Regions from separate parts of the Homo sapiens genome. Here region 1 is linked to region 2. The links come from fine-mapping of genetic effects on gene expression. A gene starts in region 2. The other region holds a variant in brackets. All regions are shown on one strand. Distances are from middle to middle. Region 1 has its middle 30 kb from the start of CTLA4. Region 2 holds the start of RAPH1 (Ras association (RalGDS/AF-6) and pleckstrin homology domains 1).

Region 1 (5,379 bases), 360 kb before region 2:
CTAGGGCACTCAGAAAAGAGCACATGTGTCTAATTAGAAGTATTATCGGTTAAATGCAGGCTCAGTTAGTCCCAATACAACCTGTGCTTACCCAAAACTGAGCCCAGGGACTGCAACAAGCTCTTCCCTTTAAAAGCCATGCTAATAGCATGCACAAGTTTAATCTCTTGGATTCTGAGTGGTCTCTGAGTGAGCAGCTTGGTGTAGGTGTCTTTCTATGTGTCAGTGTGCTTATTTGTGTATGTAAGTCCGTGCCCAAGAAAGTATGTCTGTGTCTACGTTCTGAAAATATTCTGCTCAGATCTCCTGGGGAAAAAGAAGAGCTATTAGCTGAAAATCTGTCTGTGAATAGAGAAAGCAGAATGCTCAGGAGAAAAAAATATTTCCCCTCTGGGAACCTAGATTCTCAGAAAAGGTATCTTCAGAGCTTATATTTGACAGATCATTGCCAATGTTTTGATTTGGCAAAGTAGACCTACCTCCCATATCTTAGAGAAATGGAGAAGGTAAGAAGAGGTAGTGTTGTGTGCCATGGTGGTTTGCTGCACCTGTCAACCCATCACCTAGGTATTAAGCTCCACCTGCATTAGCTATTTCTCCTGATGCTCTCCCTCCCCTGCCCCACCAACAGGCCCCAGTGTGTGTTGTTCCTCTCCCTGTGTCCATGTGTTCTCATTGTTCAGCTCCCACTTACAAGTGAGAACATGCAGCATTTGGTTTTCTGTTCCTGTGTTCTGTTCCTGAGGATAATGGCTTCCAGATCCATCCATGTCCCTGCAAAGGACATGATCCCATTCCTACTTAAAAAATTTAAATCCCTAGGATTTTAGAAGTACAAAAAAAACACTGGGGATAATCCCCTGTGATCCTTCTCATAGGGATGAGAAAATGGAGCACAGAGAGGAGAAGTAATTTGTCCCTAATCACACAGCCACTTGGTAACAGAAATGGGATTAGAAACTGGGTCTCAGGTCCAAGTCTATACACTAGACCAAGTGATCCAAAAAGATCTACACATGAAGATTCATGGTCTCCCAAAGTGCTTATTATGAAAACATGGGAATCAAGATCTCCCTTTCAACATCAAGAGATTTTGTGATGTTCAAGTGTAAAATTATTATATCCATGTATTAGTCAGGGTTCTTTGGGGAAACAGAATCGAGAGAGAGGGAGTAAGAGAGAGACAGATTTATTATACAGAATTGGCTCATACACTTTTGGAGGCTGAAAATTTCCAAGACCTGCAGTTGACAAACTGCAGACCCAGGAAAGCCAATGGTATGATTCTAATCTTAGAGTCCAAAGGCCTGAGAATCAGGAGAGCCAATGGTGTAATTTCTGTCTGAAGACCAGCAGGCTGAAGACACATGAAGAGCTGATGTTTCAGTTTGAATCCAGAAGCAGGAAAACAGAAACAAAAACAAAAACCTATTCCCAATTCAAAGACAGTCGGCCTTTGAATTGAAAGAGTTCCCTTTGACTCATTGAAAGGGCAGTATTTTTGTTCTATTCAGGCCTTTAACTGATGGGATGAGACCCACCCAAGTTTAGAGAGGGCCATCTGCTTTATTCAGACTACTGATTTAAATGTTAATCTCCTCAAGAAACATCCTCACAGACACACTTAGAATAATGTTTGATCAAATATCTGTGCACCTTATGGCCCAGTCAAGCTGACACATAAAACTAACCATCACAAATTGTTATTATTAGATTCCTGGGTCTGGGTAACAACAGAGAAGCAGAGTTGCACACACACCCTCCAATGCATCTACTTTTGATAATCACTTTGCCCAGGAGCTAGGGAAGATTGTGACGCTGGGGGAAAAAGAGGTATCAAGACCTCGCTGCTGAGCCTGTTCTTTTGGAGTTGGCCAAGAAAGCGGATAAATTAGAGCTACATATGATAACCTCATTGACAGTAGTATTTGAAATGTAAATCCTGATATTTTAGAATGAAATGGAAAAAAGAATAAAAAGGTAACATATAGCTTAGAAATTTTTACTCTTAAACTATAAGGAGGATTTTGAAAAGACAGAAAGTTTTATGAGAATGGCACTATCTCTTGAGATTTCTCTAGAAAGCAGGAGTCCCCAAGTTTTGGTGACAAGCAGCCACTTTTCATTCCCCCAAAGCTTTATGCCCACAAATGTAGTAGAGCAAGGAGGGAAAAGACCATAATAAAAACAGTGTGGAGGGGGTTACTCTTCCTTATGATTGAATTTTGGCAAATCACAGAGCTCTTTGCTGGTAGTTATAAAGATCTTGGAGCCCCACCGTGAAAAGATTAAAGACCATAGTTGGGGTTCATTGTCATTGACAGCTAACACCCTGTAAATGTTCAAAAGTAAAAATAACAGGAAGAAAAAATAAGAAAGAGCTCTATAGAAGTCACATAGAGTAATAAGATTACAGAAAATCAGAATGTCAGCACTTTCTAATGGGAAGTGAAAGACAGATAAGGAACTAACTATTTCAAGAAATTAAAAAAAAAAAGAAAGAAGGAAATTAAGAGAGGCCCCATGAAAATGATGGCTGTATTCATTGACTTAAATAACATTTT[C/A]TCTGGACCTTTGAGGGGAAAAAACATAATTATTTTTAGGTAAAGCACGTTTTGCAATTTCTTTGCCCTGGCTGCATATTTAGTACATTTTCAGGCCATCAACAGGATTACAGAGCCCAGAAAGTCCAATCAGAGGCAGGAAGGAGGCTTAGCTACTATTGGAGAATGTGATTCTATGGCTCATGCTGGCACCAATATCAGGGAGAATACCCCAAAATACCACAAGTGTAACATATCTGGGCAGCAATATCCTGTTTTTTAAAAAATTAAAGAGAAGTCAGTTAATCACCATCATTCTTGGTAGATCAAATCTGGTTACATCCATCTAAGCTGGCAACCCTCTTCCTACCACCTGGAAACCTTCCTACAGCGTGCAAATGACCCCCATCCTACCTGAGAATTTATCCCTTCATCGTCTGCCAGGTTAAAGAAAGGAGAAACAGGATCTGATTCTCAAGGTCACAAAAATGGCATCTTTTTTGTTGACCCCCTTCAGAACTGGGGCAAGGAGTAGAAAGATTGAGAGCAAAATATGTGGAATTGGGCTATAAATCAAATGAAAGAGACAAAAATTCTAAAAATGTTCTATATCTGCTTACTGTCCAGGCCATCATCAGGGAACTGAATTATGATCAGCTCAACAGGCTTCCTTTCTCAAGCTCCTTCCTCTGGAGTACCTTCTCTCCACCTCCATAACTGGCACACGCCTCTAGGGACCACCAGGACCAAGCCATAGGCCCTAAGGAAAGGAGATAATGGAAAGGGAGATTAGGAAGCTTGGCTGATTGTTTTCCAAGCCAGATTATTACATGAAACTAGATATACTATAGATTTTAACCTCAGAGAATAAGGTTTTTGTTTTGGGGGTTTGGTTTGTTGTTGTTTTTTTTTCCAAGAAGAATTAAATATTACAGAATTTGGAGGCATGATTGCACAGATACTATATGAGGAAAAAAACTTTTGTGCCACAACCGCTTAAAATTCTTTAAATTGCTAAGCCCAAAGATACTGAAACCTCACAGCAATATTGAGTAACAGATACACTAATCTTCTTTCTATCCTTTTTATAAGAAAAGAAGGTGGGACTCATAGAAATAAAGCAAAGTGGGTGACGGCAATTTAGAAGCCTGGCTGGGAGGTAAGCCTGTCCTTCTGATTTCAGAGTGTTTGTCTTTTTTTTTTTTTTTTTTTTTACTTTAAGTTCGGGGATACATGTGCAGAAAGTTCTGGGATACATGTGCAAAATATGCAGGTTTGTTATATAGATATACATGTGCCATGGTGGTTTGCTGCACCTATCAACTTATCATCTAAGTTTTAAGCCCCACATGCATTAGGTGTTTGTTCTAGTGCTCTCCCTCCCTTTGTCCCCCCAAAAGGCCTCAGTGTGTGATGTTCCCCTCCCTGTGTCCATGTGTTCTCATTGTTCAGCTCCCACTTATGAGTGAGAACATGTGGTGGTTGGTTTTCTGTTCCTGTGTTAGTTTGCTGAGAATGATGGACTCCAGCTTCATCTATGTCCCTGCAAAGGACATGAACTCATTCTTTTTATGGCTGCATAGTATTCCATGGTGTATACGTGCCATATTTTCTTTATCCAGTCTATCATTGATGAGCATTTGGGTTGGTTCCAAGTCTTTGCTATTGTAAATAGTGCTGCAATAAACATACGTGTGCATATGTCAGAATGTTTGTTTTTACCAGTGACCATAATACTTTCCTTCAGCATTCAGAAAGCAGAGAGGAAAGAGAGAAAAAAAGATAGAAAAACATAAAAAGGCTTTTTATTCTTTTTTCTGTTTTCTCTCTCTCTTTTTTTTTTCTGAATAACCTTGAAGCACCTGAGTACTCAAGTACCTGAGTTTTCTTTCCTGGCTCACTGTCATCAGACTTCCCCTAACCAATAAATTTTTTTTTCTTGGGTTTCCCCTGAATCCAAGTGTTCATTCCTTATTCTCTGCATCCCTCTTTTGATAGGTCCCATTTGTAAAGCCTAGGAAACTGGAACTGTAATGCCTCACTCCACCAAATCACATCATAATAGAATACTTAAAGAAGTCCTTGTGCTCAGAGTTCCTAGTGCTCATTATTATCTTCTTTTATTATTTTTTTTTTTTTTAGAGACAGAATCTTATTCTGTCACCCAGGCTGTAGTGCAGTGGCACAATTATAGCTCACTGTAGCCTCAAACTCCTGGGCTCAAGCAATCCACCTGCCTCAGCCTCCCAAGTAGCTGGGACTACAGGCACATGTCACCACAACCGGCTTATTATTTGCTTTAAAATTCACCAAGTTCATCAGCCAGACGAACAGGGCAAAGAAGAAACACTCACCAAGTTCAAATTCTAAATTCTAATGAATTACCTTAAGAGGGATTCTTGAAACATGAAGGGGGAAAGCAGAAGTGTTTCCCTTTCCTAATTTTATCCCACAGTTGGCAACGAGAAGAAGGGTTCAATTGTACCTAGAAACTCGTTCTGATGTAGCGCTTTATCTGCAATGGTCAACTCTAGCTGCACATTAGAATCAACTGGGGAGTTTTTAAAAAATAACGTTTATGTCCCAGCACTGGTGGTTCTAATTCAATTGGTCTATAACTGGTCTATGTTGGGACCCAAGCAGCAGTTTTTTGTGTTGTTGTTGTGGGGATGTGTGTGTGTGTGTGTGTGTGTGTGTGTGTGTGTGTGTTTTCAGACAGGGTCTCACTCTGTCACCCAGACAAGAGTGCAATGATGCAATTATAGCTCATTGCACCCTGGAACTCCCAGGCTCAAGCAATCCTCCTGCCTCAGACTCCCGAGTAGCTGGGACTACA
Region 2 (5,379 bases):
GGGTCTTTCCCGTGCTGTTCTCATAATAGTGAATAAGTCTCATGAGATCTGATGGTTTTAAAAATGGGAGTTTCCCTGCACAAGCTCTCTTTTTGCCTGCTGCCATCCATGTAAGATGTGACTTGCTCCTCATCACCTTCTGCCATGATTGTGAGTCCTCCCCAGCCATGTGGAACTGTAAGTCCATTAAACCTCTTTTTCTTCCCAGTCTCAGGTATGTGTTTATCAGCAGCATGAAAACGGACTAATACACTTACGGTGCCTCTAAAGCATGGTGATGCTTGGTGCTTCCACACACCTGCAGAGATATTGTTTTCTTCGTTTGGAATGCTTGTTCCCTCCTTCTTCTGGTTAGCTCCTCCCTATCATTTAACATTCAGTTCAAGAATCTCCCCATCAGGAAGGCTTTCCTGATCTGGTAATGGACTTCCAGTCTAACAATGACTTCCTTACCTGCTTTACCCACTAGACTGTATGCTTTTTGTAGGCAGGAAGCATCATGCCACGTCTTTCTTGTCTTTGTATTCCTGGGCCTTAATTGTAGCTTAATAAACTCTGATTGAATGAACGAATGATTTAATGGTTTAAAGAAACTGATGAGAACACTCTTTTCTCAATGACTGAAAGTGACCTTTTTTCTCTTTTAATTAACCTTGATCTTAGGCTAAGCACTTGGAGAAGAGTTGGCTAAGACCTATGTAAAAGGCACTCAATGGTCTATTTTTTTTTTTTTTCTGAGATGGAGTCTCACTCTTGTCACCCAGGTTGGAGTGCAATGGCAGGATCTTGGCTCACTGCAAGCTCCACTCCCAAGTTCAAGTGATTCTCCTGCCTCAGCCTCCTGAGTAGCTGGGATTACAGGCACCCGCCACCATGCTCAGCTCATTTTTGTATTTTTAGTAGAGATGGGATTTCACCATGTTGGCCAGGCTAGTCTCCAACTCCTGACCTCAGGTGATCCGCCCACCTCAGCCTCCCAAAGTGCTGGGATTACAGGTGCGAGCCACCACTCCTGGCTTCAATCGTCTATTTTTTTAAGGAGGTTTAAATGAATCATCTTCCTTGTAAGGTATCACACAGCCTAGTACATTTAATGACAATAGGATTCATTAAGTTTGGCACCCAGGTGTGTCTAATGTCAACAAACTTGGTCACAAGGGAAATGAGGTGAAAGACTAGATACATTTGTATAAAATTATCACTTATGAAAAATTTTAAAGCATTTATTAATTTATAAATACTTATTGTGCAAGATACTATGCTAGATATTGTGGGAGATACAAGGATGAATAAAGTGTTGTATTATATTCACTTTTGGAGGATAACTTCTTGAAATAATTAGGTGGCAAATGATGATTCCCACAAGAAAGGAAGAGAAGTCTAAAAGAAGTTGGTCAGCAGGATCATCTTCATTTATAAGAGATAGTATTATTCTTTTATTATTTTTATTTTTTATTATACTTTAAGTTCTAGGGTACATGTGCACAACGTGCAGCTTTGTTACATATGTATACATGTGCCATGTTGGTGTGCTGCACCCATTAACTCATCATTTACATTAGGTATATCTCCTAATGCTATCCCTCCCCCCTCTCCATCCCCCCAACAGGCCCCTGTGTGATATATTCCCTGCTTTGTGTCCAAGTGTTCTCATTGTTCAAGTCCCACCTATGAGTGAGATCATGTGGTGTTTGGTTTTCTGTCCTTGCGATAGTTTGCTGAGAATGATGGTTTCCAGCTTCATCCATGTCCCTACAAAGGACATTAACTCAACCTTTTTTATGGCTGCATAGTATTCCGTGGTGTATATGTGCCACATTTTCTTAATCCAGTCAAGAGATAGTATTATTCTATACAAGAATATTGACATACCTACTGAACTTAAAATACAAAAGGGCAGTTATGTTTCAAAAGTACAGATATCTCAAGTGTGAAAGGCAGCCAGTATCTGTATTGTATGGTTCTAAATACCAATTTGAAACAGATTGTGTACCAGTTTGGAACAGATTGTACAAAAAAGACTGAAACCACTTGAAAGTCCTCAAGAATATCAGGAAGTAAGAATGTAATTAACCAAACCAGGATTTGGCCCCAGGACAGAGAAATGAACACTCTCATTCTTAGAGAGGGAGCTAGGATTTCAGGAATGTACAGTCAATGCTTTGTGAAAATTTAAATAAATTCTTAGCAAGCAGATGGGAAGACATGAAAAAGCAATGTTCATTGCAACCAATTTCAGGTCACACTCCCAATTTCTCAATTGTTTTAATGCTGTCAACAAACTTGCTTTGCATGTAGCCAAGCAAACATAACTTAGTTCCATTTGTTCCTTTCTTTGATCAACTTTAGGTGAAGGTCAAAATAAGGACATACTTAAAATCTAAAAGTCTGCCGAAGTCAAGCCTGCATCTAAAGAGGCAGCAGCTGAGCTTAGCGATAAGGAAAAATGCCGACACCTTACTACTACACAATTCCGATGGGGTGGGGGGACAGAAATTAAGGAGGCAGGATTAACAGATTTCGAAGTTTAAAAAGTAAAGGTCATCGAAATGTCCCGTTCCTAAGTTTCCCAATACATTCCATGAAACTGCAGAGACTTTTTGGCCAAAATGGGATTTCCTAAAGAAGGGCCTCACAGATCTCAACGACAATGGTCCTGTAAGTGACCGAGCCAACCCCGGATGCGTTTCTGGAGTCTCTGAATACACGGACAGCGTATAAAGGTGGATGCGTACAGCTCCCTGACAGAACTGCTGGAGGCTGCTGTGCCTCCCAGGGCGCTAGGACAGAGGCTGCTGGGCCGGCTTCCTATGAAAGGCGAGCAGGGGGTGGGGCAGCACTGGGATTTTCCTCCCCACTCATTCATTCTCTGATTCACTCGTTCCTGTAGGCGGCTCACAGGGACTTGCGGAGGAAAGGCGAGGCACGAGCGGAGCCGCGGTTGAGTGCGGCCGGGCGCGGCCGGGCGCCTGAAGGGAGGGCGGAGGGCCGGCGCGGGGCGCGGGCTAGGGAAGGGCGGCGGGCGCGGCGGCCTGCGCCGGAAGTGAGTGGTTGGCGGCGGGCGGGGGCGGCGCGCGGTCCCGCGCGAGTCGGCCCTACAGTCGGCAGTCCGGCCCTCAACCCCGCCTTCTGCGTCTCGGCTGGACGCGAGCACACTCGGCTCCGCCGCCGCCGCCGCCGCCGCGGGGCGCTGCGGCCGCCCCGCCCCCGCTCCCGCCGCCGCCCGCCAGTCAGTCAGTCAGTCAGTCAGTCAGTCAGTCAGTCAGTCACTGAGCGCGCGGCGCGGGAGCTGCTGGCAGTCGCTGCGTCTCTGGCGAGGGAGCGCCGCGCCTGGGGAGGAGGCGGAGGCAGCGGCTGGAGGAGCGCGAGCGGCGGTTTCCTTGCCCGGGGCCGCGGGAAGGCCGACCGACTGCCGCGGTGAGTGGTTAGCCTCGCCCTCGGGGCCAGGGGGTAGGGAGCCGGCTGGGCGCGGGGCCGTGAGGCGCTCCTGCCGCTCCCGCCTCCATTTTCCCGGCGCCCGGCCCCGCCATCCGGGTGCGGTACGGTCGGCGGCAGCCTGGGGCGGGGTCGTTGCCAGGTTGGGGATCGGGCCGGGGCTGGCTGGACCGCTCCCGGCTGGTGGATGGAGGTCGGTGGGGCCTGGACTGCACCCTGCGCCCCTGGGGACCGCGACGGAGGGAGACAATGAGATAAGGGGCCGCCTGGGAGGGTGCGGTTAGGCTTCTCCGACCCAGCACCGGGGGCTGGTGGCCCGGGACCGCAGGGAGGAAAGGACTTTCCCCCGCCCAGCTGCAGAAACCAGCTACTGGATGTCGGGTTGCTTGGGTTTCGATGCCCCCATCTTTCATAGATGAGTTCAGTGCAGAGATTTTGAAAGGCGGGGCTCCTTCTGTGTCTTCTTTCTAATTAAACAGGATAAGTAATTGCTTCATTGCTTTTTAACCGCGTCTCCTCTTGCGGTCTGTATTATACATTCCCGCCGGAAATCCAAACTGCAATTCATGGGGGGGGGGGGGGGGTGGACGGAGGGAGGGGGCAGTGTGATAGTATTAGGATGCCTTCGTGTTAAGACAGGTTGAAAGATGTGGTTTTCTTAAGGCAGTGACTTAGGGTGTCCCCACTGTGTGAGCTGGAAACCGCATAAACCTTATTGCTTACAAGCTCGAAGACATGGTTTAATATGAAATAAGAGCCTTGAGGGAGGGTGTAAGTGTTACATGTGTCTTGCGTGTGTGCATTTCTTAAATTCTTTGGGAAGATCCGTTGGGGAAATCCGGGAGAATGGAAAAGTTCTTCACTCAATCTTCCAATAAGGGTTGATGTTGTCTGCAGCATTTCTCAGGGAAATGTGGAGAGCTGCTTATGTAGGTAAAGTCCACCGTTAAGGAACAGTAAAGGTAACGGGTTAGGGATGAGGCGTGATCGGATTATTAAAGAGTCAGTCCATGGGGATATTAAATTCAGCAAACATTTATGGAATACCTACTCTGTCAGTTAGGCTGGGTGACACCAGGTGAACAAGCATGGGGTGGTGGAAAGAGCTCTTCGGAGTGGGGGAAACCGTACGCCCTGGAATTGGCTTGCAATGTGAGTTGGATAAGCTATTGAACTCTGCAGTACGTTCCCTATCAGTAAAATGGGAATAACACCACCTGTTTACCTCCCCAGATGTTTTTCATGTAGATTAAATGAGATAATGTATGCAAAATGCGTAGCACCTTGCCTGGCATAGAGGTGTTTAACAGCACCTTAAATTCCTTTCCTCCTCGGGGTGGTTTTTTTGGGGGTGCGGTGCGGGGGGTTAGTGAATGTAGGTAAGTGTAATACAGTGAACTATATAGTAAAATGTTGAGGTATAGAATAGGAGAGCGAAGAAGAGAGATTAATTCTAAATTGAGGGAGGAATGCATGGAAGCCTCGGCATTTAAGTGAAACCTTTAAGGATGAGTAGGATTTCAGCAGATTCAGATGGGGAGGAGGACATTTCACATGGTGGTGCTATCCTTTGAGAGCCGAATTGAGGGGGAGGACCTTTGGGGGAGGGGCAAAATAGAGACGCTCAATAGCTTTTAACTCTTGTTGAGTCTGACCTTCAAAGATTGTCTCCGTTATTTTGCTTTTTGTGTGGTGAATTTCCCAGAAACCAGATGCAGCCCTACTCAAGTAAGTACAAAAAGCTTAATTCATGATTTTTTGGGTTAGACATTTTGTATAATTTAGATTGCTGTCTCCTGTTTGAATGTAATAAAGAATTATTTGTAGATGTTGCCTTATGATAAACGTTAGCTTTATTTGGTAGAAGCAGCAGCTTATTTTTCAGACTCAGAGGTCTCACTAAGATTATAGAGTATGTGACTGGGTGAAAGGAGTGGAGTAGTG

Evidence for each region. PIP is the estimated chance that this variant, and not a neighbour inherited with it, causes the effect. A credible set is the group of variants that fine-mapping cannot tell apart.
Region 1: its variant is the best candidate, but not a certain one, in a credible set for the expression of RAPH1 in whole blood (INTERVAL, PIP 0.88).

What each region holds. Positions count from the first base shown.
Region 1 is chr2:203,894,790-203,900,168 of GRCh38, reverse strand. No RefSeq gene overlaps it. Among named protein-coding and RNA genes, the nearest start is that of CTLA4, 30 kb to the right of the region's middle. The variant C/A (reference allele first, on the strand shown) is at 2,565.
Region 2 is chr2:203,533,149-203,538,527 of GRCh38, reverse strand. RAPH1 (Ras association (RalGDS/AF-6) and pleckstrin homology domains 1) reads left to right here and starts at 3,227. Exons shown (of 14, transcript NM_213589.3): 1 at 3,227-3,417. RefSeq lists silencers at 3,079-3,148, 3,199-3,288, 3,359-3,458.